2 separate regions of the Homo sapiens genome follow, and region 2 is linked to region 1. The links come from fine-mapping of genetic effects on gene expression. Tissue or cell type: whole blood. Region 1 holds a variant in brackets; the other region holds the start of a gene. All regions are shown on one strand. Distances are between the middles of the regions.

Region 1 (2,760 bases):
TCAAACTGAAGTTTAAGAGTCACTCAGGGCTGGGCGCAGTGGCTCACGCCTGTGGGAGGATCGCTTGAGCCCAGGAGTTCAAGACCAGGCTGGTTGGCACAGTGAGACTCTGTCTCTACAAAAAGGAAAAATAACTTGAACCCAGGAGGCAGAGGTTGCAGTGAGCCGGGATTGTGCCATTACACTCCAGTCTGGCGACAGAGTGAGACTCCGTCTCAAAAAATAAATAAATAAATAAAAAGGAAAATAAGATAAAACCACAAGTCAATTCCCAACCCCAGACCCCAACCTTGCTTTATTTTCTCCACGGGTTTACCAGCACTGACACACTGCATATTTCATTTATTTTGTTTACTATCTAGTCAATGTAAACTTCACAAGAGCAGGAATGCTTCTGTCCCTTTTGTTATAAAGTATCCCCGGGACCTCATAACAGTGCCTGGCATGTACTAGGGGTTCAATAAGTGTTTGCTAATAAAGAGATGCTGAGTGCATGAGGCCCCAAGTGGGCTGCATCACATCCCCCAGGGAAACGCTGCTCACACCATTACCCCATTTCACAGATGAGGTAATCGAGGCTCAGAGAGGAGTCCATAGCTAGCTAATAAGAGGTGGAGACAGAATTGAAACCCAGGTCTCTGACTCCAGGGCTGTGTGCTTTCCTCTCTCCAAGCACACAGCACTGGGAGAGTCTTGTCTCCAAGGCAGGCTGCATGAGATCAGACAGGGAGAGAGCCTTTTTTTTTGTATCTGTCTGTATACCACAATATGGCTTAGGAAGGTCTTGGTGGTTAACAAGGCTCCCAAATAGGACCCAGAACACAGGTGCTCAATAAACATCTGGATGGATAGATGGATGGATGGATATGAATGAATGGATGGCTGATGGATAGAAAATAGATAAATATGGATGCATGGGTGGATATTAATGAATCTGCACAGACCCGTGTGTGGATGGATGGGTGATAAATGAATAGGTAGGTGGATGGACGGGTGGGTGGGTGGATGGATGAATGGATGGATGAGTGGGTGGATGGATGGGTAGATGGGTGATAAATGGATAGGTGGACGGATGAGTGAATGGGTAGATGGGTAGATGGATGGAAATGAACAGATGGAAATGGTTGGATGGGTGGATAAATGGTTGGAAGGATGGATGGATGGGTGAGTGGGTAGATGGATGATAAATGGATAGGTAGGTGGATGGATGAGTGAATTAGTAGATGGGTAAATGGGTGGAAAATGAACAGATGGAAATAGTTGGATGGGTGGATAAATGGTTGGAAGGTTGGATGGATGGGTGAGTGGGTAGATGGATGATAAATGGATAGGAAGGTGGATGGATGAGTGAATGGGTGGATGGGTAGATGGATGGAAAAACAGATGGAAATGTTTGGATGGGTGGATAAATGGTTGGAAGGATGGATGGATGGATGGGTAAATGGGTGATAAATGGA[T/C]AGGTAGGTGGATGGAGGAGTGAATGGGTGGACGGGTAGATGGATGGAAAATGAACAGATGAAAATGGTTGGATTGATGGTTGGATGGGTGATTGGATGGATGGATGGGTGGATGGGTGACAAATAGGTAGGTGGATGGGTGGATAGGTGAGTGGGTAGATGATTGGGTGGGTGGATGGATGGATGCGTTGGCAGATGGGTGGATGGATGAATGGATAGGTAGTTGGATGGGTGGGTGGATGAATGGGTGGGTAGATAAATGGGTGGGTGGATGGGTGATAGATAGATAAGAACTTCGTAAGCCATGCTGTGGTATACAGACCAATACAAAAAAGGATCCCTCCCTGTCTGATCTCATAGGTGGATGGATGAGTCAATGGCTGGATGAGTAAATGGGTGGGTGGGTAAGTGGATGGAAAATGGACAAATGAGGCCAGGTGCGGGGGCTCACATCTGTAATCCAAGCACTTTGGGAGGCCAAGACGGGCGGATCACTTGAGGCCAGGAGTTCGAGACCAGCCTGGCCAACATGGTGAAACCCTGTCTCTACTAAAAATACAAAATTAGCCAGGCATGGTGGCTCATGCCTGTAACCCCAGCTACTTGGGAAGCTAAGGCAGGAGAATCGCTTGAACCCAGGAAGCAGAGGTTGCAGTGAGCAGAGATTATGCCATTGCACTCCAGCCTGGGCAATAGAGTGAAACTCCCACTCAGAAAAAACAAAAACAAAAAAAAAAGAAGAAGAAAGAAAATGGACAGATGGAGATGGCTGAATGGTTGGATGGGTGGTTGGATGGGTGAGTGGATGGATGATAAATGGATAGGTAGATGGATGGATGGATGATGGAAGACGGATGGGTGGGTGGAAGGCTGTGCAGATGGATGATGGGTGAGTATGTTGGCAGATGAATGAATGGACAGAAGGACAGACAGAGGGCTGCACAGGAGGCTGCATGGGGGATGGCGCAGAACCCAAACCTGAGAGGAGAAAAAGCGCTGACCCCACCTTCCCTGCCACCCCAAGAAGCACAGCATGGGGCCACAGCCGCTCTTGTTTAATGGTGGCACAGCCTGCGGTCTGGTTCCTCCATCAGGGCGCTGTGGGTATGGCCCTGAGGTGAGGGGCAGGCCTGGGGTGGGGTGGGGTGGGGCCTGAGGCAGAAGCATGGGGGCTGACCCTCTGCCTGACATGGAGAGAGGACATTCAGAACCCTCCAGCCACAGATGGCCAGAAACTTTGGTTTGTGTTTGTTTTCAAGTTTCTGTCCTCAAGGAAGCTGCCCAGAAAGGGAGACGAGGGGAC
Region 2 (2,619 bases), 32 kb before region 1:
GAGTGCAGTGGCACGATCATGGCTCACTGTAACCTTGAAGTCCCGGGCTCAAGCAATCCTCCCACCTCAGCTTCCTGAGTAGCTGGAACTGTAGACATGCACCACTGTATCCGGCTGATATTTTAATTTTTATAGAGATGCAGTTTTGCTGAGTTGTCCAGGCTGGTCTTGAACTCCTGGCCTCAGGTAAATCTCTTGTCTCTGCCTCTCAAAACACTAGGATAACAGGTGTGAGCCACCTGTTGGCTCACAACAGATGAGTCATTAACTCACCATTGACTCCATTTTATAAACAGTGAACCTGAGGTCCAGAGAGATTAAGTAACTTATCCAAGTTCACACAGTTAGAAACAGCATAGCCAGAATTCACACCAGGCAGTGTCTTTGGCATCTGTGCTATTAACCGCGATGCTATACTTTCTCTAATATACTAGTGTTATCGTTACTATTATGAAAGCTGCATGCATTTAATATTTATTGCCAATTGTCCTTTGGAACCAAATGCTCCTGGCTCAGTTTCCAGGCTTCCCCAGCCCTCTTGGTTATACTGACTCACAAGAGGACAGCAGGCATCAGTTAAATGAAAAAGCCCCAAGTTGCCAACAGCCTTATCAACCCCAGACCCCATCAGGCACCTGAGGTCTGGGACTGAGCTGTCTTGGCCCAGGGACACACACCTCTTGTCCCGTATGGCAGCCACCAGGGCTGAAATGGGGGACCTGGGTCTCCCTGCTGTGGAATAACCCAGGGGAAAGCAGGGGGCTCAGGCTCAGGTCCCAGTCATGCCAACCTTGGCCAAGTCACTTTTGTCACTGGGCCTTACCTGTCACATCTATGAGTTGAGGTAAGGACCACCAGTGCTGTCCACCTCACTTGTCCCCAAAGCCTTTCCCCAGAGGCCACCTTGGTGGCACTCCACAGCCAAATCCCTGGTGCCAGGGCTGGGACACCTCGGGCTGGCCCCTTGGCTGGCAGAATGCCCAACCCTGCCCCTCTGGCAGGCAGAACCCACTCTCGCCCTTCAGGGTCCCCAGCACAACACTTTCTTCTGCAGGGCACCCTGAATTCAATCGACATTCCCAGGAGGGCCTAGAACACGCTCAGGCCCTCTCACTCCCACCTGCTCAGCTTGGACTTTGCCCAAAGCCTCCCAAACTCCTGCAGCCTCTCATCAGCCTCTCATTCACACACACACTGAGCCCCAGGGGCCCCAGCTGGCCCCAGACCCCTTACCTCCCTGCCCAACTATCCCAGACCAGCGTGGCCCCAGCTCCTGCCCTCCAGCCTGCCAGGGAACCAGCTCTTTCCAGGAACCGGCTCTGTCCAGCTTCAGGCAGCTTCCGGCAACCTTGGTCCCTCCTCCTTTGTTAAAGAGAAAGCTCCAGACCCTAAGCCTCCGGGTGAAGACGGAGGAGGAGAGGGGATGAGAGCAACCCTCACCGCTTTCCCGGGCACTGCCTATGACTCATGCACCACCCTGTCTCATTTGACAGATGAGCAAACTGAAACTCAGAAAAGGGAACTTATTTGGCCAAAGCTTCCCAGACAGCAAGGGGCAGAGACAGCCTTTACCCCTGGCCCTGGGCCATCTCTTCCGGGATGCAGGCATCTCCATGTCTTCTCATTTTAGGTCTAGTGATTGTCCCGGATGCTGAACCACTGTTGGGGTCAGCTTAGGTCTGGGATGGGAAAACAAGGACAAGGGAACTTTTTTTTTTTGAGACACAGTTTCATTCTTGTCCCCCAGGCTGGAGTGCAATGGTGCGATCTCGGCTCACTGTTACCTCCGCCTCCTGGATTCAAGCGATTCTCCCACTTCAGCCTCCCAAGTAGCCAGGTTTACAGGCACCCACCACCACGCCAGCTAATTTTTGTATTTTTAGTAGGGACAGGGTTTGACCATGTTGGCCAGGCCAGTCTCGAACTCCTGTCCTCAGGTGATCTGCTTGCCTCTGCCTCCCAAAGTGCTGGGATTACAGGCGTGAGCCACTGCACCTGGCCAAGGAAACAATTATTATAATTATTATTTGTGACATGGGAAAGGTATATTTTTGTCTGAAGCACCTCTCCGTCTCGGATATTTTACACGCAGCATGAGAACCCAAGCAATTATTTGCTACTCAGATGAATGACTGACCATTCATTCATTCATTAAATGTTTATTGGACACCTACTATGTGCCAATCCCTGGAACTTTGGCCTCAAACAAAATAGCATGTCCTCTGCCTTCACAAAGCCCTTAGAGAGGGCCATTAGAGAGCACTTATTAGTGCTATCAGATGTTAGCAGCTGGCAGGGTGGGGCAGGGCTGTGGAACCCAGAGCAGGCACCCCGCCTGGCCCTGGGGGGCTGGGGAGGCTTCCTGGAGGAGGGGAAGTCTGAGTGGAGCCAGGAGTCAGGCACAGGGAGTGCAAAGGTCTGGAAATGAAAAACATGATATATTCCAGGGTCAGGGTAGTATCCAGTGGGGCTGGGAGGGAGAAGGCAGGGGTGGGGAAGCAAGTGGGGTTGAGGCTGGAGATGTGGGCAGAGATCAGAGTCCACAGGGATGCCTGTACCAATCCAGAGTTTGGACCTTACCCAGGGGCACTAGGGAGCCACAGAAGGCTTTAGGTGGGG

The links. PIP is the estimated chance that this variant, and not a neighbour inherited with it, causes the effect.
Region 2: SDSL starts here. The variant in region 1 is fine-mapped to the expression of SDSL in whole blood (TOPMed, PIP 0.96).

What each region holds. Positions count from the first base shown.
Region 1 is chr12:113,389,134-113,391,893 of GRCh38, reverse strand. PLBD2 (phospholipase B domain containing 2) reads right to left here. Exons shown (of 12, transcript NM_173542.4): 12 at 265-2,760. Among named protein-coding and RNA genes, the nearest start is that of SDS, 13 kb to the left of the region's middle. The variant T/C (reference allele first, on the strand shown) is at 1,458.
Region 2 is chr12:113,421,092-113,423,710 of GRCh38, reverse strand. It overlaps SDSL (serine dehydratase like), which reads right to left and starts at 1,331. Exons shown (of 8, transcript NM_001304993.2): 1 at 1,234-1,331.